Homo sapiens: one gene and its partners. The protein of the gene in region 3 purifies or fractionates together with the protein of the main gene of each other region. This does not show direct contact. Each region holds a gene or a part of one and is shown on either strand. Other genes may lie near its edges. The genes, in order: SERPINB8, IPO5, SPICE1, NXPE3, CEP120 and PKP1.

Region 1 (5,654 bases), on a different chromosome or scaffold from region 3:
ACAACGCAATTTTATTTTTAGGCAGAAAAAAATTAATGTATATGGAGGTTCTTTCTTAACTAAGGGGTGTGCTTGAGCTGTGTCTGAGCACATATGATTAGTTAGAGGACTCAGTGGTGTGTTGCGTAAGTTCCTTTGGTATTTTGTGTGTTTCAGAGGGAAAAGGAATGGAAAGAACAGCATAGCAAGCTTCAGATATTTGCCTCCTAGCTCAGTCCTAAAGTGCATTGCTGAGTCCCTGAACTTGTATCTCAGGCTTATGGAAAGATGAGAAGGAGCTGTCTTCATTACAAACTGTGTGAGACAGGGGGCATGCAGGGCTGTCTATGTGACAGTGACAGAAGCAGATCACTATTTCAGCTGCACATGAGACACAGGGTGGCTGCAGCTTTACTCTATAGGGTTTGCCCTTGGCTTTGTGTGCAGTGTCACCTGGGCACTAGTCCCCTGTTCAGCCTGGCAGTGGTGGTGGGCAGAGCCGGGCGGATGGAAGAGGGCTGGCTCCTGAAGCCCTGAGATGCTCCATAAGATCCCCTGAAACAATGGGCACAGACTTAGGTGAAGGCAGAGGCAATGGCAGGCACCCCAAACACTCCAAAACCAGCATAGCCTTCCCAGGCCCAAATTTCATGCATCTGCGGCCTCAGTTATTCTCAATGGCTCTGGAACTTTCAGCAAAGACTTTCACACACTATCCAGTGCACACGCTTTATTTTGGCATTCAAGCCACTGCACCAACTAGGTCACAGGGAATGTTAATTAAGGCAAGATAGGTAGAAGGAAAGGAGGGTATGTACAGCAATTGCTCCTCTTTACGGAGAAGAGAACCTGCCACAGAACAAGATGCAGTTGGTTTTGTGGTGCCTGATGAAGAAAAGAAAAGGGTGGTCTGCACAGAATCTTGGCTCCATTCTGCTGCACCGGGAATTCCTGACCACAGCAGTGGCTGCGGCAGCCTCTGTGCCTTCCTCATTGACCTCCACGAAGCACTTGTGGGCAACCTTGGACAGAGGCACATTCTTCTCAGTTGACATTCCAGAAAAGTCTGCCTTGGCTTCGTCAAAAGCATCGATCATTCCTAATCTTCGAAGGAAAGGCTCCAAGTCATAACTCTCCTCCAGCTTTAATCTGGGAAGGAAAACTTGAACCTTACTTTTTGTCAACTTTTCTGAATTTGTCCAGGCTTTGAATTTCTCATATGTAAGTGCTTTTTCCACCTAGGATAAGAAAGACTCAAACCTTAAAATTTAGATGACAATAGCCTGATACCCACACACCCATTTATTACCCCTCCCCCAATGACATGCAATTAGATGGTGAGTTCTGGTCCAAGAAAATCTACAGATATTTTCTTTTATAAACACACCAAGATTTTCTCCCAAATTTTCATCTTTTCACAGTTTTATGGAGACAAGTGTAAAAGAGCTAGTAAACACCTGAGACAGGCAGAAATTTTTAATAAAAACAATTTGTACCTAACTCCTTTCAAATGTTAAAAACATTTTTTAACAGTTTAGAAAATTCTAACCAATTCATTACATTAATCTTCATGCAATACATACTACTGTGAGTGGGAGAGATTGTTTGACAAAAGACAAAGAGCATGGCTCAGAACTCTGCTTCTGAGTCTAATGAGGGGACTATTCAGGGTTAAATCAGAGGGCAACTCAGAGTAAAAGAGAGGGAATTGTGTTTCATCTGAAGATGAAGGGAGGCATGAGAAGGGAGCATGAGACGAGAAATGGGGAATGCAAGAAGACTTCATCAGCATCCTTGTTTGTCCTCTGCCTGTCCTGGAGTTAGCTTCAAATTCTTCAAGATCCATCACTCTTTCTATTTATCAATAAGGTAGAAAGAAAAAAGGGAGAAAGGCCTTCCACTAGCATCTCCCCTTCCCTTTAACAACTGGAGCCCAGGTGGGTACTCCTCTCCAACGAGCATTGTTTTGATTTTGACTCTATTTCTAGACTCTCCTAATTTTCTCATAAGTGGCCACAACAGATGTCATCCCTGACTTAGGGCAGTAGCTTTCTGATTCCAAAGGGAAGCCAGGAAAATCAAGCAGCCCACCCTCAACATCCTGTGCATTGGTGTGCCAGAGCTGACCCCTATCAATTGTTAAACCCTCAGTAGACTAAAGTCGGCCATGGTGGGAGTATTTACCATGTCATGAGAATCAGCAAACTTTATAAATGAAGGCTTCTCCCACCTCCCAGAGCTGGTTTACAAGTGCACTATTAGTCTTGCACCTCCTACCTTGCAAGTTTACCACTTCCCTTCCTGGACTCTGTTCCTTTTCTGTCACAGTAAGACTTTTCTCTCCTCTTGTATAAGGTAAATTTCCCACCTGTACTTTAGACTTTTGCTATTCATAGTGTGGTTCCAAGCATCTGTATCACTTGGAATCTTGTTACAAATGCAACATCTCAGGCCACACTCCATTGAATCAAAATCTGCACTTTAACAAGATCACTAGAATCATATATGTGCATTAGTGTTTGAGAATCACTGCCAAGATTGATCCCTACCCTTCTTCCAGGACTTTTGTGCAATAATCATTGGGCTTTCAAATAGACCTTCCATGCAGAATAAAGAATAATATTCCAAATAATAATATATTTAGAACTCTCTCTTCTTAGCTTCATCAAAACTTGTCCACTCATATATGTATACACTCAACAGAAATGCATGAACATGTTCATCAAAAGACACACAATGATGTTCACCCAGCACTGCCTGTAATAACCCCAACTGGAAACTCCTCAAATGCCAATTGGTAGATGAACATAAAGAAATGAGCTCAGCTGGACTCCACAGATACTCAGGCTCATTGCCTGGAGCTTACCACGGCGAGGTCCGTGTTGTCATCGGGAAGCAGAATGACCATGCTCAGCTCCTCTTCCACATAGGGCAGCTCCAGGACCTGGGTGTGTACCTCATCCGCATACCCCATTTTAAACTTAGCTTCCTTAAACATCATCTGCACTGTCTTTTTTTCCTAACGGAAAAATTAAAGTTCGATTACTGAAAAGTGGGTATAATTTACTAAAAATAGGATATATCTAACTCACAGAAACTCTAGGTGTGTATAATTACTGTTTCTGCACATTTATGCTGATAGATATAAAATCTTCATTAGTACATCTTAGTATTGAATAGAACAAGCTATTGTTCCAGCAGATCAAATATTACCAGGTGAGAAAAAAAAAACAGTTTGGTAAATGGAGAAGGACACAAAAATTGACATTATCCTTGGAAGAAGCTGTGTTTGCTTTTTTGAGAACATTCACAGAGAAGCTTTCTCATGGAAGCTTCCAACTAAAAATTCTTTATCGAAGTTAAGATAAATATTCAGGCCCTTGGGCTGAAGGATCTGGTTAGAAAAGATGTACGGTCCAAACTCTGGAAAGTTGCCTTGTTGTAGAATTGGTTTTATGGCCTTGGCTTTCTTAGGAAGGGGACCTTGAAGAGATGTGTAAGGTCTGCTGTTTTTAAAGCCTGCATCAAATATATTTTTAACTTTCATATCTTTGTGCAATATGAGAGTATCATATTTGATGGATGTCAAATCCCAAGCTAACAACTATTGATACCAGCCATTTTAATATTCAAAAGGGAAGGTAAAGTTAGGCTTTACATCTGCTAACTTTTTTTTCTTGTGCTCAGGATTGTATAACTTTGACTTTTAAGGCAATAAATAGGCATAGTTGCCACTGATATTGCAAAAAGGTATCTAACTAAATACAGAGAGTAATAGCATCATGCAAACATAATTCCAAGGCTTAGAAGAAATTCTCCTCCAATCCAAATCATATGACCAGAGATGGAAGGTAGATTTGATCAAAGATGGAAAAACAAAACTATCAATACCAAAATTATTTTTGTTTCTCTCTTCCTTCCGCCATTAAAGATACACAGGAGGCATTAAATTCATTCAGAAAAGAAGCCAGGCACAGTGGCTCCTGCCTGTAATTCCAGAACTTTGGGAGGATAAGGCAGGTGTATCACTTGAGGCCAGGAGTTTGAGACCAACCTGGGCAATATGACAAAACCTTATCTCTACAAAAAATACAAAAATTAGCCAGGCCTGGTGGTGTGCACCTGTAGTCACAGCTACTTGGGAAGCTAAGGTTGGGGAATCATTTGAGCCTGGGAGGTCGAGGCTGCAGTGAGCTGAGATTACACCACTGCACTCCAGCCTGGGTGACAAAAAGAGACCCTGTCTCAAAGAAAATAAAATAATATAATATAATTCAGAAATAGATTAAAATCAAGATCATGTCAAATAAATTATTCATTTTTCCAAGAGAATATTTCCTGTAATATTACTTTAAGAAAGTAGCAGTATATCTGAAAAATCTTTCCCTACCTCGTTGGTTTTAAAGAGCATTCCCCTTGTGTACTTTCTGTCAAATTGCTCATTCCACTTTCCCTTGAAATAAATGGCATTCACAAGGACCAGCTTTGTCAGGGGATCGACTGTCCCAGCATCCAGTACCTCTGAAATCTTACCTATAAAGAATATGAGAGTTTATTGCAATTTGTGGGGAAATAAGCATTCTTTTACAAAAATCCCTTTGACACATAAGGCAGAGGCTTGGTTGAGAGACAGGCTGGAGTTCTGTCTTTCTGGGCCCCTGATGAATTAGGCGATGGTGTTTAGCAGTGTGGCATACACAGTGTAACATTTGTGCTTAAGAAAAAAATCTTGAAGTAGGAAGGGCAACTATCATTTTGCCCTCAATTTATGGATGTAGAAATTCAGGACCAGAGCATTTGCCAGACTTTTGCTGAGTGCACACAGGTGACAAGTGGCTGAGTTGAGAACATCACCCCAGAGTCTTGATTCTGACTATGGGGCAGTCAACCTTGGCACTATCATATCCAAGCCTCACCGCTATTGTCATTTTAAGCCAGATAATTCTTTGTTATGGGGGCTGTCTTGTGCATTGTAGGATGTTTAGCCAGCAGCATTTCTTCCCATTTTGACAACCAAGATTGTCTTCAGCCATTATCCAATGGCACCTGGAGGGCAAAGCTACCCCTGGTTGAGGATCATTGCTCTATGCATATATTCAAACCTCATCAGACAAGGAAAGCTTTCCAAAGGATGAGAGAACACAGATCTGTCAATGGGAGAAGGCAGCCTCTCTGAAGGGGGTGAATGGGGCAAAGGAATTAGGGGGGTAGAATAGAGGGGCCCAAATTGAGTTGTCCAATGAGAGGGTAACAAGGTCATCTCCAAGGTCCCCTTCAGCTCTAATATTCTGGGGGAAATGTGGGTGGTCAGCCTAAGGGAAGGAAGGGCATAAGCAGCCCTGGAAGAGCAGTGACAGGTATAGGGCAGTGGGGGGAAGGTGTGGAGAAACTTCTAGGTTCCTCAGGTGACAGTACTGTTGAACAACTGGAAAGACCACTAGGCAGATGATGTATGAAAACACAAAAGGCTCTTCCCTTCCCATGGTAATTATTGTATTGGCTTTCAGTAGAATCAGGGGCATTACTTCTGCTGGACACACAGTGGTTGCGACATAGGATGGAATGGATGCAATAATGAGTGCTAGGTTGGCCCTTGAAATAAGTGACTTAATTCCTCCACCGTTTACAAGTATCGAAATTACTTGTTAGGTATTTAGGATGCTTTAAAGTATGAC
Region 2 (4,715 bases), on a different chromosome or scaffold from region 3:
GGAATACAGGCTATAAAGCTCCAAATATTACCACACATTACAAGAGCCCACAGGTATTCATCCACTGAACACAAGGACTGCGCAGGTGGAGTCATTTAATATGCTGCTTTGCTAGATTCGGAAGCCTCCGGGCAATGGTGTTGTGCTGCAAACGTAAAATATATTTGAAGGGCATCTGCTAACAAGGAAACCATCTGTATGTAATCCATTCTATTTTCTATTCCATTTCAGATTTAGTTTTAATAAAGTAATACAAATCATTTAAAGAAAAAACCTTTAATTTAAAATTCTGATCTATGCATAAAATTCATTTTTATATCACGGTTAAATTTAGTACAAACTATAAAAATGTTAACACTGAAGTTTTCAACAGAAGTCTATTAAGATGCCTTAGAAAAATTAAACAACAGCAAGTCATTTACTGCTATGAGGTTAATACATAAAGAAACATTCACACATTTTACTGAAATTTTCAGTAAATAACTTTAGCCATAACACTTATAATTAAAAGTTCAAAAGTTGTGTGTGGCTCTACAGCAATTATAATTTGCAATGAAAACACTAAGCCAAATCTTTTTGAGCTGATCAGAACAATCTTAGCTACAAAATTGGCTGAAATTTGCAAACCTTAAAAAGAACACCAATTGTGAATGGAATAGGTATCATAACTTAGCTTAAAGTGGAAGATGGTAAAAACTCGATGCTTAAGTCTGAATTGCACAAGGAAAATATTAGGGGAAAAAACACTCAGCTATTACTGATAGCTATTACTTTAAAAAAATATTAGATCATTCTTATATTAAAAACATGAAATGAATCCAAGCCAGACAGTACTGAGTTTTTACACAAGCCTCTTTTGTATTCAATGTTGTTTATTGAGGAGTGAATGAGAGACTACTGCCAGACATGCCAATGACACTTCACATTCAAGGGCTGGAAGCTGGAAAGCTTCCCGACTGAGTCACTGTATAAGCCTTCTGGGAAAAAGAACCAAAGTGACATCAAATATGCCATCTTCATGCTTGTTGTCTGTCATCAGTTTTTTTCAACTTTTGGGTCTACTGGTTTGCTGGGTAGGAGGCTTCTTTCTACCCTACAGAAAGACTCACACTCCCAATTCACAATGAACACTGAATGCAGAGCAATTTGTGTGAACACACATCTACGCTGAGTAACTGTTCTTAAAGCTGTTTTTCCTTAAATTTCCTTATGTCTAACGAGAAAAATTAATTTGATTTCCCTTTCCCCTTCAGGTGGGCGGGTTATACCAATAGAAAAATAGTCTTCAGTGCTAGCTACCGCAGGGCTTCCAGGAACTCCTTCAGTGGTCTGGTAGAAATCCATGGAAACTCCATTCTGCAACACAGCGCTGCTCTTCCTGCTTGTGGCTCTCCAGAAGAATGGCCTACACACAACACTACCGATCTCTTTTGCTCAAAAACAAAACAAAGAAACCTAAAGGAAAGGGTAAGCGTTTATTTGGAGTTAGTTTTCTGGTGGGTGACATTAAGGCCCTTCACGCAGAGTTCAGGAGCTCCTGAATGGCGGCCTGCTGCTCAGGACTGAGCTGTGCTATGCACTCAGTCCACAGTCCTCCAGAAGTCTAGGGAAAGAAACATTTTCACAGACTTAGGACGAAATGCTCATTTGGAAGGATTTTAATCATCATCATAGGTAAACTGTAATCATGGCAAAATACCTTCTCCCTAGGTACATTATTTTGATGAGTATCATTGTAAAAGCAAGAAATCTGTTCATTTTTTTAAAGTTCATTTCATTTCCAGTAAGTTTTCTTCATTTTTGCACTGAAAAAGCTACACTAAGCAGGTAACATCTTAAAGTAACCCATATACCACATGAATATAGGAAGTAAAAATCATATAAAGTTTTTTGGCAGATGACAAGTTATTATTAAATCTTGTTTTTTTTTCTTAAGATAGGCAGAAAAACTACACATAAGCTTGTGTTAAGCACCAACTGGTAAGCTCAAAATGTCCTAAGATGAAGGTTTTAATTCTAATAAATAATAAGTACATACGGATGGATTACATTAAGTATAATCCATTTGAGGCTTGGAGACAAGAGACTATGAAAATATAAAAATAAAATTCCTTAGCTCATTAGATTTCTAGTTTCTTCTCATAGAGGACTACAAAGAAAAAAAGGTTTTATCTCCCCCTCCCCAATTCAACCAAATCAGCTTACCTGTACTTGGCGAACGACATTGGCCAGACGTTTGGCACAAGGATCTTCATGTTTAATTGCCTCGTGCATTTCTCCTTCCGCAATTATACTAAATATTTTGGGCAGATTGGTATTGTTTGGGCCAAGAACAATTGGATGATTACTGACAAATGAGAAGAAAACCTTAGTAAGTGAAATTTATAAGGAGAAATATGATTATGTGTTCACTAAAATCAATGGCCTTTTAAATTCAGTAGGAAGAAAACCAGCCAATCTTATATATGAACTCTTTAGTTTCTTTCTACATAAATTAGAAAAAAAAAATACTGGGCTCATCTCTCAGGATTGTTTTAAGGGCCAAACAACAGAATGCTCTAAATACCTTATAAATAATTTGTGATGTGTTAAAAAAAATGTTTTGTATTATTAAAAATAAGTTTAACACAAGTTTTATTTTGCTACTACAAAATAGCTTCTAAAATAACTCTGAAGTTCAAAAAAATTATATAAACATTTCAAGAATAAACTGGGAAATAAACTCAGGCAAGTTTAATGGGAAAAAACCTGATAGCGAATTTAAGAATTCTAGTCTTTGTCACTAAGAGAATTTCAGAGTAGTCGTTTCCAAGGAAGATGATCAAATAGCATGATTAAGACCTGGTCATTTCAGATGTAGGAGCAGGTCAGGAGTATGTAGTCTGCAGGATGGCTGTTACATTCCTTAATGATATGGTCAGTGGAAGACTCAAACCCATTTCTTATGTGAACCTGAACTTAAACAAGTATGGAGAATATACCTGTTGGCCTATTGCTACAATAGTGGCAGTGGTTGTAGCCCTTGAATTTATTCATAACCTAAAAATAATAATAGCGACAGAGCTTAGATCTGACTGATATTTGGGGGGAACTTGGACTTAGAAAACAGACACTAAACAACATTCCCTTAGGCTGGGTTTGGTGGCTCATGCCTGTAATCCCAGCACTTTGGGAGGCTGAGGTGGGAGGATCTCTTGAGGCCAAGAGTTTGCGACCTGCCTGTGCAAAACAGTTAAGACCTTGTCGCTACCAAAAAAATTTAAAAACAAAGAAATAAATAATTAAAGTGCCTCATCTGTTGAATCTAATTTCATAAAGAATAACTCAAAATTAGACCTTATTATAAGGGCAATGTTAACTGTGATATGGTTTCTTAATATGATTTATAAAGACAGCACTATTATAAACCTATACAACTGAGGACTGTGCAGAGATCATGTGGTTAAACCTTAAAAGACTGATGTTAGGCAAGAAAAACCAGGAAGCACTGTGGAGGAGAAGGAAATAAGGTCACAGTCTGCTTTCCTACCTTTCAATCAGGTCACACAGATAATTGAAAGTCTGAACAGCTTCTTCTTTATCTTCATGTAGTGGAAGCCAAGACAACCAGTGTGGAAGGACCTCTTCAACGTTTACACAGTCAGGCTTGAACTTCATGATTTTCCCTACTGCTGAGATGCAGTTCTCTGTAGCATTGACATTTTCTTTGGTCTTAGAATCCGCAGACTGAATAACTCTTACCAGCAGGGGAAGTGCTTCTAAAATAAGCATTTGAAAGAAGTTCAGCTAAAACCTCACATTTTCATGCAAATGAATATATGTATTTTTGTATTTGGTTCAGATATTGATTATGGTAAAGAAATGTTAAAGTGTATGGGAAGTGTTGTCTTCTTGGCTATGTCATTACAGAATGGCAACAGAGGGGGGACTGCCCCAGCATGGACAGGAGCACTAGCCCTCTACTAACTTAGAGACCCAGAGAGATTAGTGGCCTCCAGATTTACAGTACTCATCACATCACCCGAGGGTCCTTAAACTTTAAAAGCTGCCTAACTATATTCCCCAGTAAGTTTTAAAAGTCCTATTCTGCCAGGTGTGGTGGCTCACGCCTGTAATCTCAGCACTTTGGGAGGCTGAGGTGGGCCGATCACGAGGTCAGGAGATCGAGACCATCCTGGCTAACATGGTGAAACCCCATCTCTACTAAAAATAGAAAAAATTAGCCAGGCGTGGTGGCATGCGCCTGTAGTCCCAGCTACTCAGGAGGCTGAAGCAGAATTGCTCGAACCCGGGAGGCGGAGGTTGCAGTGAGCCGAGATCATGCCACTGCACTCCAGCCTGGGCCTCAATTAAAGAAAAAAAAAAAAGTCCTATTCTAAGGCTGTTGTATATTGCCAAAACGCAAAGAGAAATGCACCCTGGAAGGCTGGGGGCAGGGGATGTCTTTGATTCTATTTCTATGAGAATAAATCATCTTTTTATCATCTAAAATCCTAAATGCTACAGATGAGATGTCTGAAAACAGACTACAGCAGAAATAGGCAAATAATGTTTGGGAGTGTGGTAAAGAGAGTAAAGTAGGGATTCACAGGATGTCTGGAATGAAATGCACGTAACGGAATAAGCAAACGTACCTGTACAAAAAGGGCGATAATTATCTCCACCGTACTGTGCCATGACTCCCAGGCCATATGCAGCTGCTTGCCTGACTTCTG
Region 3 (5,654 bases):
GAGCAATATGTGAGGATTCTAGTTTTTCCATATTTTTGTCAGTGCTTGTTGTTGTCCGTCTTTTTGATTATAGCCATCCTAGTCGGTGTGAGGTGGTATCTTGATTGGCATTTCCCTAATGACTAATTATGTTGAACATCTTTTCATGTGTTTATTAGCTGTCTATAGTATCTTCCTTGGAGGAATGTCTATTCAAGTCCTATGCCCATTTTTAAATCGGATTTTTTAAATTGTCGAGTTGTAAAATTTCTTTATATAGTCTGGATTCAAGTCCTTTATCAGATAGAGGATTTGCAGATACTTTCTCCCATTCTATTGGTTGTCTTCATTTTCTTGATTGTGCCTTCGAAGCACAAAAATTCTTAATTTTGATTACGTCCAATTTATTTTTTTCTTTGGTTGCTTGTGCTTTTTGTGTCATTTCTAAGAAACCATTGCTTAACCCACGGCTCACGAAGATTTACTCTTATGTTTTCTTCTAAGAATTTTGTAGTTTTAGCTCTTATATTTAAATCCATGAATCAATTTAATTTTTGAATATGGTGTGAGGTAGGAGTCCAACTTCATTCTTTTTCATATGCGTATCCAGTTGTCCCAGCACCATCTGTTGAAAAGACTATTCTTTCCCCGTTGAATTGTCTTGGCACCCATGTTGAAAAACTGACCATAAATGTAAGGGTTTGTTTTAGACTCTTTGTTCTATTATATTCTGTATCTTTTTAAATGGTACTTATGGCTCTGCTACTTACTAATTGTGTGACCTTCATGGTTGGTTAACTTTTGTCTCTCAGTTTTCTCGTTTGTAAAATGAGGAATAAATAGTAAGTACCTCATGGGGTTATTGTGAGGATTCAAGAAAATAATGTTTAAAGAGCTTAGAATAGCATCTGGCTTATAGTAAGCACACGGTATCTGTTAGCTGATGCCATCATTACCACCGTGGCTATCATCATCATTACCATCATAAAACTTAAATGTTATTTTCTAACTTGTATGTGACTTGTTTTCTTTGGCTGAAATTGTAAATGCTGAAATTAGATACCATGTTTAAGGAGTGAATGTTCTTGTTAAGAGAGAGTACAGAGTGCAAGGAAGATTGAGGGCAAACTCTTAAGAAATACTTGTATTTAGACATTTTTATTATAGTAGACAATGATTTTTTTTTAAAAAAAAGTACTTAAGGAAAATACTAGAGTCCTTGTTTTAGACTAATTGGGAGTAAGGGGGTCAGCTGGAAAGTCCTGTAATTATTTAGGTAGGTTAAAAGTGTCTGCAATAGTAGTCATGTATATGTATTGCTTTTTAAAAGTCATATATATGTATTGTAAAATCCTGGTGTTCGGGGACTATGGGTCTTTTTCTAATTTGGTGTAATGTGTAGTCTAGTGTGCTTAGCATTGCTGTTTAAACAGTGGCAAACTAATGTTGGCAATTTAAAAATTCTAGTTTAAAATCAATAATTATTAATTTGTTTATCAGCAATAGAAAAAAATCAATAATTAGCACCATTTAGCATTATGTGACAGATATATTAGAAGTGATATCATACCTCATTTGTTCTCTAAAGTTTAGCTACTTTTATTTTCAAGTAAGCCCATATGTACCTGGTAGTGATTTTGAGTGTTAGAGTGCTTAAAAAAGAACTCCAACTCTCTTTTGCCCTTTCTTCCCTTCACCTTACATTCATATTGTTAGCTTGTGACTGGGCTATTTTCTACTAATTGTAAATTTGTGTAACTGATGACAAAGCTTATGACGAATGTCTTAGTTCTCGGCTTTAGGCCATAATTTCTGCATTCCTAGAGTTCTTTTTTAATCAAATATATAAGTTATTGACTTGAGACCTCTTTTATTATAATTATCAGTACCAACATTTATTAGTTGTAAAATAAAAGAACTAAGTATTTTGATAGGCTGTTCCTTTCATCATGCTTAAATTTTTCTTCTGGCATTTTAAAATTTGTTTTTTTTTTCAGGTGTCTTCCCCCACTCTGGTGATGCTTATTGTTTTTTCTTGTATTTTAAAAATTTGATGTGATTATTATTCCTAGATGTCATTTGTCAGAGTGAACCGCTGTGGTCCCCGAGTTGGTGTAAGAAAGACACCGAAAGTAAAGAAGAAGAAAACTTCAGTGAAACAAGAATGGGATGTGAGTATAGGTGGGATAGTAAATAATGTAACATTACTCTGGAGAAATGGACACAGTGATATGGCCCTAGTCATGCAAGATGGTGTTCTGAATGGGGCTCATCACGTAATAGGGTGGAATAGGTTTCTGGGCATGTGATATTCTAGGTCTTGGAGGGAAAAGCAGAATCCTTTGGGGGAGGTTTTTAGAATACACACATCCAGGCTGTAACCTCTATATCCTCTGAAGAATTGGAATCCTAAGGGGATGGGGAGCATATTTTAAAAAACGTCTTTTCACTTTGACTCTGAGAACTCACTGCATAAAGGCAACTCTAGCTCACTGGTGTCAATGAAGTCTGTGAATTTTTCGGTACCTTTTTTAGGTTTGCTCAGAGCAACCAGTGATATCATAACCATGTGAGTGCCAGTTTTGGCTGAAAAAAATAGGTGACCTTTGCTCTCTTATCCCATGAATTGCTCAATTCCAGAGGTTGATCGGTTTCAGAACAAATGTTCTCTTGTGGTATAAGACAAGGCTGAAGTACCTGTAACATGTGATGTATGGCTCCTAACCTGAATATTGCCTGGTGTTACCAAGGGGATTTATATCTTTTTTTTAAGAGACAGGGTCATGTCCTGTCACCCAGGCTGGAGTGATGTGATGCCATCATAGCTCACTGCAGCCTTAAACTCCTGGACTCCAGCAATCCTCCTGCCTTAGCCTCCTGAGTAGCTAGGACCAGAGGCATGCACCACCACCCCTGGCTAACTTAAAAAAAATATTTTTTGTAGAGACAGGTCCTTGCTGTGTTGCCCAGGTTGGTCTTAAACTCCTAGCCTCAAGCGATCCTCGTGCCTTCGCTTCCCAAAGTGCTGGGATTATAGGCGAGCCATTGCACCCAGCTAGATTTCTCTTTTGTGACCTGATACTTTGGTTTGGACCATGAGACTTTAGGTGTCTTTACTTTCCATTGTGAAGAGTAACTAGTTAGGGATTAGTTTGGATCTCAGGGATTCTTTTGGACTTGGAATCTTCTTGTTTGCAACCTACCATGTTAGCCAGATATCCTGGGCAAACTGACAGCCTTTGAAGTGGGGCAGCGGGACTTCTCTGTGTTTAGATTGTTTTGTTGCTGTCTGATTGGCTATAAAATTTTAATAACAAGGATGTGACTCTAAGGTAAGGAAACTGATAAATCGGAAAAAAAAAATATGTGATAACATATTTTCCCCTTCAGAGTGGTTACTTTGAGAAGTTTAGTACAGTTGACCTTTGAACAACATGAGTTTGAGCTGCACGGGTTCATTTACGCATGAATTTTTTTTCAATAAATACAGTTGGCTGTATCCTGGGGTTCCACCTCTACAACGAAAGGTGGATTGAAAATACAGTGTTTTCAGGATGTAAAACCCAGATATGGAGAGCCAATTAGGTGGGATTTGAGTATGTGTGGATTTTGGTATATGTGGGTGTCCTGGATACTGTGGGATGACTGCATTTATTCCAATATGCCACTATTGCTTAAAACTTAATTGAAATCTATCATTTGAAATTGCATTAAGAACCTTCCTCATTTTATCTGCAGTGCTGGAAAAATCTTTTGTTTTTTGAAGGTAGACTGAACTTGGAAAATAGTCATAAGTCATTTGGAGTAAATGGTAAATGATGGAGAAGAGATCAAACTGATTATTACTGTCTTGATAAAAATAGTGAAACATTTTCTGAAATGGCTTGTAGATTAGATTTAAATGGAATGTCAAAAGAAAATGGTTTTAAGCAATGGTTTTAGTATTGATGGAATTATTATTTTCTTCCATGAGAACAAATTTCAAGCCTATCACTTACTTGTATGCCTGAGTTTTTAAATGCCTATTAAAAACAATTCTCATGATCCTGTAGTTGTACCTTGTACCTTTCTTTTCCTTTTCCCTTTTTTTTTTTTTTTTTTTTTTTGAGACAAGGTCTTGCTATGTTGCCCAGGCTGGCCTCAGACTCCTGGGCTCATGATGAGATCTTCCTGCCTCGGCCTCCTGAACCTCCTGGGTAGCTGAGACTACAAGCGCACACCACCATGCCTGGCTCTTGTACCTTTCTAAATCATTGTAAAAGTAATAACAGTTTTCATACAGAAAAGCCTTGAGCCAAATATAAATCATGGCCAAAAAGTTTAGTCTTTGATCAGAAGCCATTTTTGACTGTTCGTATTCCTCGTCACTTAGAAGTAAAACTAACTTGTTTTATTTCCTGCCTTACCAAATCTGTGTAGCAAAATGGCTGAAGTTGCTTTGGAAAGGGCCAAGTTACAGGGTTGCTACTTAGAGCTGTGCAGCCTGTGTACCACACAATTTCAAGGGGTGCTATTTACACGGACTCTGATATTAATGGTAACTTATGGAGTTGTGCAGGGTGGTAGCCCTGCCATGATAGTTTAGTGCCTTTTAATTTAACTGACTGTTTTTACATTTTATGAAATTATGCATTGCCCTCAAATTTCATCTTCCATTGTAGTAGCATCTATGCTTAAGATGTTTGCAGACACAAATTGAACCTCTCTATAGTGATCACACTTTCTTTTTTTTTTTTTTTTTTTTTTAGATAGAAACTCGCTTTGTTGCTGAGGCTGGAGTGCAGTGGCACAATCTTGGCTCACTGCAGACTCCACCTCCTAGGTTCAAGTGATTCTCCTGCCTCAGCCTCCTGAGTAGCTGGAATTACAGGTGCCCGCCACCAGGTCTGGCTAATTTTTGTATTTTTAGTAGAGATGGAGTTTTGCCATGTTGGCCTGGCTGTTCTCGAACTCCTGAGCTCAGGTGGTCCACCCACCTCAGCCTCCCAAAGTGCTGGGATTACAGGCATGAGCCACTGTACCCAGCCAGTGATCTCACTTTCTTTTAGGAACCTTTAGCGTTACGTTGTGGAATCCTGGGATTCCATAGACTACAGTGTGAAAACTAAAACTTTAGTTAAACTTACTCATTTTGAATATATACTACCATTTATTCATATATCATATATTCATTTTGAGTATTTTCATTGTTTTACTATAGTGTATGACTGCTTGGTGAATACAGTACTTATTTTCTGTAAGACATCTAAAATTAGTCTGTTATTTTCTATAAATAGGACACCTAAAACTAATATGTGTTCATATCTAAATTGAGAATACTGGTTCCTAGAAAGAAAGAATTTTTGGTCCTAGGATTTTGAAACCATTTTAGCCATTAAAATCCAATAAATGTGTATATTTTATAAGAAAACTTTTTTTTTTTTTTAAAGAAAGGCCACCTTTTTTTACAGAATACCGTGACTGATCTAACCGTTCATCGGGCAACTCCCGAAGATCTGGTGAGTTTAATATCAAAACTTAAGTCATTTATTCAGTGTTTTATTTGGTATTTGACTTGTAACCTTTAGAATAGAAACTATAGGCACTTCCTGGAAGTTGTTCAGTTATGTTTAATCTTGTTTATGTCTATATAAAATCAAAACGCCTATCTTCTGGACTTCCTGATTTGAGCTAGG
Region 4 (5,654 bases), about 12 Mb from region 3:
GGTTCACGGGTGCTTTTTTGTTTTTAATGGTAGAATTTATAGTCAGAAATACTTTTAAGTTTTACACTAATTTAGTTCTCTAAACTTTCTCTATTTTCCACCTGGAATTTGCGTAAATTACTATGTTTCTTCCTCTTTGCTAGGCCACTAAGTAGACTGACAACGTAACTCTATAGGGCAATTATAGTTAACAATCATTTACTATATATTTCAAAACAATTATGACAGTGGAATTGGAATGTTCCCAACACAAAGAAATGATAAATGCTTTAGGCAATGGATACTCCAATTACCCTGATTTGATCATTACATATTATATGCTTGTATCAAAATATCACATCTACCTCAAAAATATGTGCAACTAGGATGTATCCATAATAACTTAAAAATCTAAAAACACAACTCTAACGGGGTATGGTGGCTCACATCTGTAATTCCAGCCCTTTGGGAGGACAAAGCAGGAGGACTACTTGAGCCCAGGGGTTCAAGACCAGCCTGGGCAACATAGTGAAACCACATTTCTACAAAACATACAAAAATTAGCTGGGTGTGGTGGCGCACACCTGTAGTCCGAACTACTCGGGAGGCTGAGGTGGGAGAATCCGTCGAACCCGGGACGTTGAGGCTGCAGCAAGCTGCAATCATGCCACTGCACTCCAGCCTGGATGACAAAGTGAGACCCTGTTGCAAAACAAACAAACAAACCAACCCTCTAAAATAGGGTAATTGAGTAGTCTTCATATATAGGCAAAAAAGTACACAGAAATAAAATAATCTGCTCAGTCACTAATAAATAGCATGTCTGAAACCTGAACCCACGAATAAAATGAAAAATTTTGTTTTGGTTTTGTTTTGAGGAGTTGTGAAATTTAATTTTGTTTTCATTTTGTACTGAGCCATAGAAAATACTAGTCTTCTCAGCAGTACAGTAAACACTGTACATTGAGTAGTGCTCCCTCTGCTGGCCTTCTAAAAGTATGGCATGAACCCACTACATATGTACATAATCTGGTATGACCAAAAGCTGACTTCAGGGTGGAAAACTGAAGAGTTTTATTTTAGGAGCTCCTACAAACCACATACTTTATGGTAGCAACTTTTCTCCCATACGGTAATGAGTGGACATAAAGTATGAAATTTTTAGGGTGCCCAGATATCCTTAACAAAAATACCTCCCTTTTATCCAACAAAAAAATTCTCTCTACCAAGGAATGTTTAAAAACAATATATTTCACTAAAAAGTAAAAAACATGTATACATTCTTTCAAACAATTGTACTTTTTGTTGAGACAGGGTCTCACTCTGTTGTCCAGGCTGTAGTGCAATTGTGATCACAGCTCACTGCAACCTCAAACTCCTGGGCTCCAGCCTTCCTCCCACCTCAGCCTCCCAAAGTGCTGGGACTACAGTCATGAGCCACCACGCTTGGCCAGCATGGTACTTTTTAACCATGTAGCTTTTATAATTTTTTATTTCTTAGTGATGTTATGGAATGTTGAAGAAAACACAAATTTTAATTCATACTGGTTCCATATTCCTTTCTGCACATTATTCCATGTATTTCTCATCATGCTGAAAATATTTTAAGCTTACATTTGAAATAGAAATTTGAACACAATACTGCAATAATTTCAACAACTATTTAGCTTAAAAAATATAGTTTTCTGTGGTATTCCTGACTTCCTATGCTTATTAAGTCAACCCAGCAATGTTGCCATATTCATAGTTTTTTAATCAGTAGGTTCAAATGATTTTAAAAACTGTTATTATGTTACTTTTTAAAGTTTCAGTTCATTAGATACAAAGATAAAACACCAGCCTGACTACCAGCCCTACCAGCCCTGTTCTTGGATTATTTTTTTCTTTACATAAAATAGATGGGGTCTTGCTATGTTGCCCAGGCTGGTCTCAAACTCCTGGGCTCAAGCGATCCTCCCGTTTCAGCCTCCCAAAGTGCTGGGATTACAAGCATGAGTCACCACATCTGACCCTTAGATAACTTCTATCTGTTCTGTGAATAAGGGATTTTACTTACACAGCTACTGTGTAAACATGCTATGTGGTTCTAAAGGAAAACACAGATATGAGGGTAAAGAACAAAAATTCAAGGGTAAAAGGTCTTTAATTTGGACTCAGATAAGCATTAAGCTTCATTTTTAAAACACTAATGAAAAATACAAATCTATGTTTTTTTTTTTATTCACTACCTCTTCTGTATTGGGCCAAGTTGAGAGAGAGGTAAGAAACACATACCGAATACCAGAAAGTCTCCTAAATGGGACAAGGACAGTGGAAAAGAACTCTTCAAATCATCCCCAAGAAAAAGCAGTACATACCTCTGGAAGAAAGCACTCTCTGCAGCGGTTAGGAGACCTTTCAGGTATCCACCTTTGAAATGGGTAATTCTGCTGCTGCAAGGGAGCTTCTTTGGTTTGAAGCAGAACCAGGGCTCCCCAGTGTAGAGGTCTGTAAAGTTACACAGGGGCAGATTCCCAGGAAGACACACGTTGCACTCAGTAGTTTCAGAAATTCTTCCTGAACGGAAGAGACTCTTGAAATAGACCCTGTCTGGTTTATCTTCCTGTAAGCGCTGAAGAACTCTGATCCCTTCACTGGGGTGGACCAGAGATACGGATACTTTAACTTTGCCTGGCCATAGCAAAGTAAAGAAAACCTTGTAAAACCCATTCTGGTAATCCACCACCCTGCCCACAGCCCCAGCCTGCAGCTTGAGGGAGTGAATTCTGGCCTGCAGGTAGTCTCCACCATACTTCTTGGGCTTTCTTTGAAAATCCTGCACATGAACCAGCACCTCAAGCTGGCTTCCCACCTTAAAGAAGGCAGCAGAGTTCAAGATGACAAAGTAGCTGGAAGAAGGGTCAGTGCTCTTCACAAAGGGGACTGGGCCCACATCAGGAACCTGCCGGTGCAAGGCAGCCAGCAAGGAGTCCTCCTCCATGCGCTCCTGGCTGGACAGGGTCTGCTGATCATAGCCACAGTAGGGATTTCGGCTAATTCCTGTCACCTGGGAGGAAACAAACTGTCCACTGCTGTCGATGAAAGTGGCTGAAACAGTCTCATGGTCCAAGTACTGAAGAAGAAGACACAAACAACAGAAATTACCACTATAATAGGTCTCTGTATTTTGGCATAAATTCAGAGGGCTCCCCACACTTCTGTGAGTTTTAGCTCCAGGAGCTCAATCAGATTCTCACAGTGAATATCAAAGAAAAATCCCCTTGGGCTTCCGGGAAGAGAAAGGGAAAAGGACCCATTTTGAAGTATGCAGAGCACTGTGTTGTTCTTAACAAAGCTGCCCCTCAAGAGAAACCACTTTATCAGAACCTAGCCTATTGGAGTTTTATCAGAGCCTAACCAACTTGAGAGAAGGGAAATATCCAACTCCAGCCCACTCGAGCCACCCAGTCCAACCTAAGATGGAGAAACACCAAGAAAAAAGTAAAGGAATGGAGAAAGATATACCATGCTAACACTAATCCAAAGAAACCAGTAGTAGTTATATTAATTTCAGACAGAGCAGATTTCAAAGCAAGGAAGGTTAGCAAAGATAAAGAGGGTCATTACATAATAATAAAGGAGTCAATTCTCCAAAAAAAAAAACAACCCTTAACATGTATGTACCTAACCAATGAGTATCAAAACATGTGAGGCAAAAACTAATGGAGAAATAGATGAATCTACATTATAGTCTGAAACTTCAACAATCCTCTATCAGAAATACACAGATCCAGCAGGCAGAAAATCGGTAAGGACATAGTTGAATTCAACAGCACCATCAATAAACTGGATATAGTTGACATCTGTAAACTACTTCATATCAAGCTCACATGGAACATTCACCAAAACGGACCACATTTTGGGCCATAAAATACACCTTAAAAATTTTTTAAAATAAAAATCATACAGTGTCTTCTCTTAAGCCATAATGAAATTAAACTAGAAATCAATAATAGAAAGAGAGCTGGAAAAATCCCAAAATGGTATACAAATGGGTAACATACAAAATCTCATGAGAAATTTAAAAATATGTTAACTAGGTGAAGGTGAAAATATAATTCATTAAACACTATAGAATGAAGCAAGAGAAGTGCTTAGAGGGAAATTCATAGTACTATACATATTTTAGGAAAGAAAAACAACCTAAAATCAGTAATTTAACCTTACATCTTAGCAAACTAGAAAAAGAAGAGCAAACAATATCCAAAATAAGCAGAAGAAAAATAATAAACATGATAGCAGAAATCAATGAACTTGAAAACAGGAAATCAATAAAGAAAAATCAATGAAACCCAAAGCTGGTTTTTTAAAAGATTGATAAAATTGATAAGCCCTCTACCCAGGCTAAGAAAAAAAGAGGGAGGACACAAATTATTAATATCAGAAATGAAAGAGAAGCCATCACTACAGATCCCATGGACATTAAAGGAATAAAGGAATATTATGAACAATTCTATGCCCATAAATTTGATAACCCAGATGAAATGGACCAATTCCTTGAAGGATACAATCCATAAAGAATGCACCTAATGATGCAAAAGTAATATTATAACTAGTGGAAATCAAATATAAAAGAATGAAGTAGGCCAGATGCGGTGGCTCACACCTGTAATCCCAGCACTTTGGGAGGCCGAGGCAGATGGATCACAAGGTCAGGAGTTCAAGACCAGCCTGGCCAACATGCTGAAACCCCATCTCTACTAAAAATACAAAAATTAGCTGAGTGTGGTGGCAGGCGCCTGTAATCCCAACTACTCGGAAGGCTGAGGGAGAGAACTGCTTGAACCCAGGAGGCAGAGGTTGCAGTGAGCCAAGATCGCGCCACTGCACTCCAGGCTGGGCGACAGAATGAGACTCCATCTCAAAAAAATAATAACAAATAAATAAATAAGAATGAGTAGGGCTTTCTTCATCACTTAGAGCAGGAAGTTAAGATATATTATGCTGTTGGGGAAATAAAAGGACTAGATACATTATTTAATGTTATATATAGAAATAAAATTAATTTTACAAATTGTGGAAGGAGAATGAAGCAGAGGCCTCATCTTTCATTATGTTAACAGTAGTAGATCAGGTGCAGTGGCTCATGCCTGTAATTCCAACACTTCGGGAGGCTGAAGCAGAAGAACTGCTTGAGGCCAGGAGTTCAAGACCAACCTGGGAAACATAGCAAGACCCCCATCTCTACAAGAATTTTTTTTTAAAGTTAGCCAAGCGTGGTGGCATATGCCTGTAGTCCTAGCTACACGGAAGGCTGAGCTGGGAAGATCACTGAACCCAGGAGCTCCAGGTTGTAGTGAGCTATGATCACACCATGGAACTCCAGCCAGAGCAACAGAGCAAGACCTTGTCTCTAACAAATAAATAAATAAATATAAATTAAAACTGGGCTGGGCACAGTGGCTCACGCCTGTAATCCTAGCACTTTGGGAGGCAGAGGTGGACAGATCGGGATCGTTTGAGCTCAAGAGTTCGAGACTAGTCTGGGCAACATGGTGAAACCCTGTCTCTACTAAAAATACAAAAATTTAGCTGGGTGTGGTGGTACACACCTGTAATCTCAGCTACTCAGGAGGCTGAAGCACGAGAATTGCTTGAACCCAGGAGGCAGAGGTTGCAGTACGCTGAGATTGTGC
Region 5 (5,654 bases), on a different chromosome or scaffold from region 3:
CCAAATGAGAACAAGATAAAATATTAGAAGAAAATAAAATGCTAGTAATACAAAACCATGGTTTTGTCTAAATCAAATATACTCTGGTCAAACAAAACTTGAATGAATGGTTCTCACACAATTAGAACTCTTAATTAACCAACTTTTGTATTTTCTTCTTCTAATCTCACAGATTTCAGAAGAAATGAATAAAGTTAAATGAAGCACTACTGTATCTGACAGAAACTCCTGAGAGTATCTAAGGTTCTCACTTAAGTAAATCTCCTAAAACTTTCTGTCTACAAAGTATGGCAATAAAAGTTAATATTCATAACAAACGGGCAGCATTAAAATAGCTTCAATTATTAGTGATTTTATTATCTTCTACTTACGACAAAAAAATGCTAATTTTTAAGAAAGATTCTTCAATAATAGGAGTTGAAACAAAATGGCCATGAATGGTGAGGAATAAGGAAAGACATTTCAATACTTTTAGAGCTAAAATTTCACTGAGCCTTGTTTCTCTTTTTTTTAGTCTTATCTTTAATGATAAAGGGCATATGATATATAATGTTAAGTTAAATTTTAAATTTTTATTGTTAATTTTGAAAGGATAATTCAACAAATATTTTACTGTATTTAAAATATGTTAAAAAAACGCAAGTTTTTCTTTGTGGCAATGAAGTTCAGGGCAAAAAACCAATAATTATTTTAAAAACTGCCTCTGACTGCCAAATATCTATAATGTCCTCAGACTTTTGATTTGGGGTAGGAGTAAAATATTTTAAGTGGAAAAACAGTCTTAGCCATTCCCAGTGCAAAATAATATAAAATACATTATAAAGTTTAACCTCAAATTACAAAATAAAAAAATAGATCCTGCATTTAAAATTCTCAAGCTAGAGAGAGGAAGGAAAATAATTAGCCATCTGAATATTACAATACCATGGTAACACAGACTCTTGACTTCTGTGAGGTGAAATCAGTATCAGAAAGCTAAAGGGCAAAGTGGGGTATAGCTGCCACAGGTCAGAGAAGATCAGAAAAAGGAGGTTATGAAAGGGTGAAGTGGTGGATCAGAAAAAAGAGGTTATGGAAGGGTGAAGTGGTGGCTGACTAATCAAAATCATTCCATGAATTGAAAAGAAAAGCAAATACCAATTCTGTGAAATGCATTACCCTTGTGCTGCTATAACAGGCACACTTTCACTGTAAGTTTGACGCCAACACTGTTCACCATTAGAACCTAAAAAACGAGTTTTTTCTGAAGACAAGATGTTAGAAAGCTGGATTCTCGCAATTCCCAGAAGTAAATCTTTACTCATTTTATCCTTGTGCCATAGTTCAACCAGTAATGGAATCCTAAGGAAGAGAGAAACATGTGTTCATACCTATCAACTCTGACCTAAAGTCTTTTCTGAACTAAATTCTTTGAATTCCCTCAATGGAGTCAAAGATGTTTTTTGTTACCTGGAATGTCGTCTAACACAATTGTTAGACTGAATGCTAAATTTCACAGGCACCAAATATGAAATGATGTTTCCATCAATGATGAACCTCACATACAATGATGGTCCCATAAAATTATATCATATTTTTACTGTATCTTTTCTGTTTAGATACACAAATACTTACCTTTGTCCAACTGCCTACAGTATTCAGTACAGTCACATGCTGTGCAGGTTCGCAGTCTAGAAGCAATAGGCTATTCCACCCAGCTTAGGTGCACAGTAGGCTATACCATCTAAGTTTGTTTAAGTACATTCTACAATGTTCACACAACAATAGAATTATCTAATAATGCACTTCTCATAATGTATCCCTATCTTTAATTCACGACTATACCTGTTTTTTTTTTTTTTTGAGACAGGGTCTTGGTCTGCCACTCAGGCTGCTGTGCAATGGCATAATCACAACTCACTACAGCCTCAACCTCCTGGGCTCAAGTGATCCTCCCGTTTTAGCCCCCTAAGTAGCTGGGACTGCAGGTGCTGGCTAATTTTTGTATTTTTTGTAGAGACAGGGTTTCACCATTTTGCTCAGGCTAGTCTAAAACTCCTGGGCTCAAAGCAATCTGCTCAAGTTGGCCTCCCAAAGTGCTGGGATTACAGGTGTAAGTCACCATGCCAGGCCTACTATTATATTTTTTGTACCACTTTCTATGCAATAAAAACCTTCAAATGCTGTAATTCCCACAAATGGTTAGATTTAAGTTACCCTTCATTCTTTTTAAAATAATGTATAAATTTGAATTGTGATACTCTGAGAAAGTAAAAGGTGTTTCGCAGATCTCAGATTTTTTCATGAATCCATTTCAGATAGTCAGATTAACATCTCTAGTTATAGGTTTAAAAAAACAGAAAAAGCAAATTTTTTCATTCAGTGAATCAACAATAAAAAGTAAATATTTAGTTCTTAGCTTTTTATCTTCCCACATTATATCAGGAAAAGGCAAGACCACTTTTCAAAGGCCCCTCATTACATATAGTTTGTTTTAACAAAGTTAAAATATCTAAATTCAGGTAAATAAGATAGGAAAATCAAAAAAGAGCCTTTATAATAAACCATGCAAAACCCTGTAGCAGATGCACAAATGTCATACACATAATTAGTAAATTTGTTTCTTGATCCTCAAATGCATAAACTGCTATGGATTTAAACCTATAAGAATTCCTTTTTAATAAAATACAAATTTTCAAGAATTGACTTAAATTAATTAATATCATACATACACTGTATGCATTACCTTAAGAAGGTGTCTTGCAGCTGATGAGGCATAGTTGCAAAATCAAATGCACAGTAAGACTGGGGAAGAAAAACTTCCATGTTTTTCCGAACTTCTACAGGAGGATTAGTCATAATAGGAGCTGCACTTCCAAAGAATGGATATGAGTACCTAGAATTTAAAAAAAAAAAAAAAAAAAAAAGCCTTAATGATATGGTTTACAGATGACATTCAGTCTGTTTTTTAGAAAAAAGTATAATATGAATATTATGAGCAAATACAACTTTTTAATAGAAACATGGTAGACATAGCAATCTGTCATCTGTGTAAGAAGTTCCTTGACGGCACATGTCCTACCTTTTTTATCTCTGCACTCCCAGGGACACAGGCAGTTTCTGCCATATATAAATATTCAAGAAATGCTTCCTAAATTTATTTGTAAACCTGGTTTATTTTATACAATAGTATCCTGATTTTTTATGGGATAAAAAGCCCTTAGTCAACTCCAAAAGGATGCATTCATGGTAATCTGGTAATTATGGTAATCTTGCAAGGATGCAAACAATTCGAATGTATTATGGATGAATCAAGAGAGTGACATAACAACACTGTTTCTCCCTTTCATCACAAAGCCATGCTAGATTAAATGGAAGAATGCCTGACTACTGCTGAACTTAATTTGTATTTAAAGCCAAATATAAAGATATTATAATGTTCATTTAAATTTAATCCTGTATCTTGTTATTCATATATGAGAACTAAAATTTAAACACTATTAGTAAAAACTGCTTTCCAACAAGAAGAATTCTATGTAGTCACCCAATTCCTATATAATTATATATCCATTTAAATCATGTCATTTCCGAGGAAAGTTAAATGCCCTAGAGTTTCAGCTCCCTATGCTTACCACCACACTACAGGATTTAGTGATTAAAAGAAAAATAAATAAAGGAAGTCATGCAGATAAGAAACTTTTCAAATACCAGTGTTACCTAACCAATTCCATGACACAGCTGCAAACTACAATTTCATACCAATACAGAGCATGGTATGAAAATTTATCAACAGAAAAAGTTAAGTGGCCAGCATTTTTAAAGTGCCTTAAAATGATTCAAAGACCGAACTATTAGTCCGTATCAAATGAATTCTATGAAGAGTGTTAAGTGGACTGTAACAATTTATTTCCTCAACTTTTGCAAATGCTAATGCTTGTTCCCAAAAAATTTATGAGGAGATGCTAACTACCCCAAACTAAATACATTATTGTATTATATTTAATTTATATCTCGGGCACAAAAGACTATAAAAATGTAACATCATTAAAAACAAATTATTGTGTAAAACTACTTAACTGACATATATATTATATAAAATTCTTAATATAGAACAATGTAGACACATTCCACTTACAGCTGATTAAGTATGGTGTTTAGATTCATAGCTATGAAATGGAGGTATTAGGAATATGAGCTCCCATTATAATACAGTTTTATAGAAAAATCAGATAATACACTACCTTTTTGACCAGTAATACTTTGACTAGTATTATTATTACTTTTTTTTGACCATTATTATTATTTTGACCAGTAATACTTTTTCCAGAAAAAAAGCACTTTTCAAGTTTAAGAGGCACTGTACTTTATATGGCATATTATGTATGTTTATCAAAATACATACATGTATTATATTACTTAGAATAAGTTATTATAAATGCCTACAATTATTATATCAGAATAATAAGACAGTTACCTCTCCTACTACTATGCTACCCTTGTTTGAATTCAAAATCATTAGGATATAGCCTTACCCCCTTTTAGTCCACTGATTTAACAAATGTTATAACTTCTTTGGTGACATTTCTCTCTGCAATTCCCCAAACACAGGAAAGTCCTTTCTCTTCAGAAAATAATACTTTGAAACAAAATCAAATCACACCTTAATATACAGTTGATTGGAAAACCAATCTCCAAGGCATGTATACTCCTTAAGTCTATTGAAAAGCAAAAATGATGTGATGTTGCTGGTACAGCAATCTTCTGTCCTGAAGCTACTTCTGAAGCATTGGATGTAGTCACTAGCTGGGCCAGTGAAGCAGGTACAGAAGAACTGGCTGAAATGAACATAAAATAAAACAAAATAATCACACTTGCTAACAGTTTCTCTTAAATTGTACAGATAGTTTAAGGCTATCATCTCATTTACCTTTAAGCAGGAATTGGGCTATTTTGTCTCATGAACATATGAATTGAGGTATAAGTATCTTAAAAGTAACTCACACAAAAATAACCCAGGTTTTAATTTCCATTCTAGAATTGTGTGAAAAAAGAGCTTACTCTCAATACATATAGAAAACGTACAGAACCAATAGAGAAATATACATGACTGCAGCCTAGAAGGCACTAACTTATTTCCAAGAGGCACATAACTTAACATTTGAAGGGCTGTATATGAGACTTACTGAGATATAATGACATCACCTTTTTACAGTAATTTTGGTTATTTTAGGCATATTTAAAATAACAGAAAGCTAAAACTTAAAAAGACAGATATCTAGTCCAACCTATTAGAGATCAGAGATACTTAGTGAGTGGCCGAAGTCACACAGCCACTCAGTGACAGAGATGTAACTTACAGCAAAGACATCTAACTCCTAATCCACTACTATTTACACTACTAACTATAACTGCAATGGATGGAAAAATTTTATTAAATCAGATAAATATGCATTCTTAGACTCTCTCTTAACTTCAGGATCAAAAATGGTTATTATGAGTTTACTATAAGAGGCAGTTAACAACTGTTTTCTCCAAACTTCAAGATATTTAAGAATCTAATCATTTAAAAAATCTACTTGCAAAAACTATATTATTTAATGTCTATTGAATAGGATATTTCCAGTGTACAAGTAAAATAAAAAATTCTGTTAATTTAGAGAATTATATTTTGAAGT
Region 6 (2,492 bases), on a different chromosome or scaffold from region 3:
TGAGACCCATAGTTGGGAGCCTTAGCTGGGAGGATTGCTTGAGCCTGGGAGGTTGAGCCCTCTTTGAGCCATGATCTCATCCCTGTACTCCAGCCTGGGCAACAGAGCAAAACCCCTGTCTCAAAAAGTAAATAAATAAAACTAAATAAACACCAACTCCTTGACCTTCATCTTTGAATTTCTCTTTCCTACAGATGCCCCACCTGGATGGGTTCAGGCTTGGGGACATTTACAAGCTGTGTGACCCTGGGGGTATTTGTTCCTTCCCTAAGTCTCGCTTTACTTATTTTAAAAATCAGGACAGCAATCCTAGTGTCATGGAGCTGCGGTGAGGCTCGATGTGCTGCTGTAGAGCAGGTGTCCATGGATAGCGCTGTCCCTGTGCCCCCGGGTGGCATTCTCAGTCCTTGCCTGGTACAGGGTAAGAGGAGATCATGGAAGGAAATGAGTAGCCCCTTCATCCCTCAACAGCACCCCAAAGAATCCACTCCTCGAAAAAGTTCAAAGAAACACTAGCAATTTATTGATTTTCTCTATTTCCAAAAAAAGCAAATACATTAGTGTATCACACAAGGAAACTGGGCCTGGCCGGCACAAGGTTCCTCTACAAACATGAAGCAAGGGGAAGGTGGGCTACAGGGAAGCTCCAAGATCCCTCACAGCAGCCCCCGGCTTCCCTTCCCTGCCCACCCCAGCCGCAGTCTTGGTCCTGCCAGCCAGTTCAGCCAGATTCCAAGGTGGACATGCAGACAGCAACACTGCCTCTTGGGTCCCCAGGAGGAGTGTGGAGTCAGGGCTGCTAGTGTGGTCCCCACTGCAGAGGTGGCTGGTGGCCAATGACTGGATTTGTCATTGGCCGCTAGCACAGGAGATCCCAGGGCAGAGTCTGTGTCCTTCCTCATTTGGCCCCAAATTGGAACTCCTTATTTTGGGCATTGGCCCTGGTAGTGTGAGGCCAATGTGGACTTAAAATCCTGAGACGTGTGTCGGCTACATGAAGCCTGGCAAGCTCCTTGTTCTCTTTCTCTAGGAAAAGCCCCTCTCAGTTTTGCCCCTCTCAAAGTGACAGGCCTGGGTCAGAGGCCCGGGTGACCTGAGCTGGCCTGAGAGGGAATGGGCAGTGTCACCAAAGTCAGCCCTGCCCTAATAGTCTGCCTCAGCCCCTGAGGTCTGGAAGGCTGCCTGGTTCCCAGGGCAGGGGCTGGGCCCATGGGGCTCTTCATTCTTTGAAGGTGGGAGGAACATGAGGCGAGGGGATGCAGGAGGCCAGGGTAGTGCTAAGGGGAAGGGGCATCCGCCTGGGCTGGTAAGGTTCACATGCAGCGGTGCATTTCCCCTCCCGCCCTGACCGGACTGCACAGCCCCCAGCCGGGGGAGCCCTAAAGCCAAGGACTTGTGTCTCCACTTTCCTCCAGAAAACATAAGCCGCATGAGGACAGGGATGTGGTCTGTGTTCTTCCCTGATGTAGTCTAAGTGCTTAGGACACTGCCCCGCACAGATTGGTATGCCATACGTATTTTTTAGGAGAAGAATTCCTCTGGGTTCTGATGACAACAAAGGAGGCCCCTGAAACCTATGCCCAGGACAGTCCAGGGATCCAGGCTCCCACGTGGGTCCCTGAGAGGGAGAGGTGAGCCAGGAGTGGGCCTCCCAGTGTGAACAGAAGCAAGGGAGGGTATGACAGACCCACAGCACCACAGCACAGCTGGCTAACAGCCGGGGACACCTCTCGGAGGACAGCGTCCTCACATGTCTGGCGTCCCCCATCTCAGTTATCATACTGAGTCCACATCAGTGTTTTCCAGCCTGAATGCTGGGGCAAGAGGTGGGTTTGGACTCGGGGGTGGTGCAGAAGAGGAAGACTTGGGAGGAGGCTGAGAAGGGGTGAGGAGGAGGAGCATCTTATATTCTTCTAGAGAAGGGCACAGACCAGGAAGTTAATTCCTCTCTAACACCAGCAATGCTAGCATGGAGGTAGAAGCTGGAAGGAGGAAGGCTTGGGAGCGCTGGGCTCTGCTCTGTCTTAGTGTACACCAAGGGATGTCCACACAGGTTTTCTCATAAGGCCCTCGGGAGCCCTCCTGCTGCTGCTGGTCTGAAGTGCACAGAGTCTGGGGGCTCGACGTGGCTGATACCCCTAATAGCCCTGTTTATCACATCCCCTGTGGGTTTCACAGAGTGGAGACAAGACAGCTGGGGTCAGGGGAAGTGGGGCATGGCCCCTGGCTGAGATGTGAGCTTGCCGGTACCGGTACCCTGATATGGCACTTTCCTTTCCTAGTCTACCCAAACTCCCCCCGTCCAAGTCTCCTGGGACCCCAAACACTCCCTCAATTGACTCACAGCAGGCTTGGTGGAAACATCTTCCTGGTTAATTTCTATACCCCAACTCCATCCCACTAGAAGCCGGAATAGGTATATGCCCAGCCCCACTTGTTCCCCTCTCCACTGGGAATATGAAGACCAGCCATTCCCAGAACAGCTCTTGGGA

Evidence for each region.
Region 1: the proteins of SPICE1 (region 3) and SERPINB8 purify together in Homo sapiens (affinity purification with mass spectrometry; one large-scale study listed by BioGRID and IntAct). This does not show direct contact.
Region 2: the proteins of SPICE1 (region 3) and IPO5 purify together in Homo sapiens (affinity purification with mass spectrometry; one large-scale study listed by BioGRID and IntAct). This does not show direct contact.
Region 4: the proteins of SPICE1 (region 3) and NXPE3 purify together in Homo sapiens (co-immunoprecipitation; one large-scale study listed by IntAct). This does not show direct contact.
Region 5: the proteins of SPICE1 (region 3) and CEP120 purify together in Homo sapiens (affinity purification with mass spectrometry; 2 studies listed by BioGRID and IntAct, with this or other methods). This does not show direct contact.
Region 6: the proteins of SPICE1 (region 3) and PKP1 purify together in Homo sapiens (affinity purification with mass spectrometry; one large-scale study listed by BioGRID and IntAct). This does not show direct contact.

The regions. Positions count from the first base shown.
Region 1 is NC_000018.10:63,982,437-63,988,090, reverse strand, and holds part of SERPINB8 (serpin B8), read right to left. Parts: intron 4,513-5,654; coding exon 4,370-4,512; intron 2,999-4,369; coding exon 2,846-2,998; intron 1,834-2,845; coding exon of another isoform or gene 1,825-1,833; exon of another isoform or gene 1,441-1,824; intron 1,218-1,440; coding exon 813-1,217; 3' UTR 1-812. UniProt on the Homo sapiens protein: Has an important role in epithelial desmosome-mediated cell-cell adhesion.
Region 2 is NC_000013.11:98,018,624-98,023,338, reverse strand, and holds part of IPO5 (importin-5), read right to left. Parts: coding exon 4,635-4,715; intron 3,759-4,634; coding exon 3,530-3,758; intron 2,348-3,529; coding exon 2,206-2,347; intron 1,604-2,205; coding exon 1,517-1,603; 3' UTR 1-1,516. UniProt on the Homo sapiens protein: Functions in nuclear protein import as nuclear transport receptor. Serves as receptor for nuclear localization signals (NLS) in cargo substrates.
Region 3 is NC_000003.12:113,503,003-113,508,656, reverse strand, and holds part of SPICE1 (spindle and centriole-associated protein 1), read left to right. Parts: intron 1-2,051; coding exon 2,052-2,150; intron 2,151-5,429; coding exon 5,430-5,477; intron 5,478-5,654.
Region 4 is NC_000003.12:101,798,672-101,804,325, reverse strand, and holds part of NXPE3 (NXPE family member 3 isoform 1 precursor), read right to left. Parts: intron 3,092-5,654; coding exon 2,337-3,091; intron 1-2,336.
Region 5 is NC_000005.10:123,383,793-123,389,446, forward strand, and holds part of CEP120 (centrosomal protein of 120 kDa), read right to left. Parts: intron 4,815-5,654; coding exon 4,640-4,814; exon of another isoform or gene 4,512-4,639; intron 2,876-4,511; coding exon 2,726-2,875; intron 1,342-2,725; coding exon 1,159-1,341; intron 1-1,158. UniProt on the Homo sapiens protein: Plays a role in the microtubule-dependent coupling of the nucleus and the centrosome.
Region 6 is NC_000001.11:201,330,998-201,333,489, reverse strand, and holds the end of PKP1 (plakophilin-1), read right to left. Parts: 3' UTR 501-2,492; downstream 1-500. UniProt on the Homo sapiens protein: A component of desmosome cell-cell junctions which are required for positive regulation of cellular adhesion.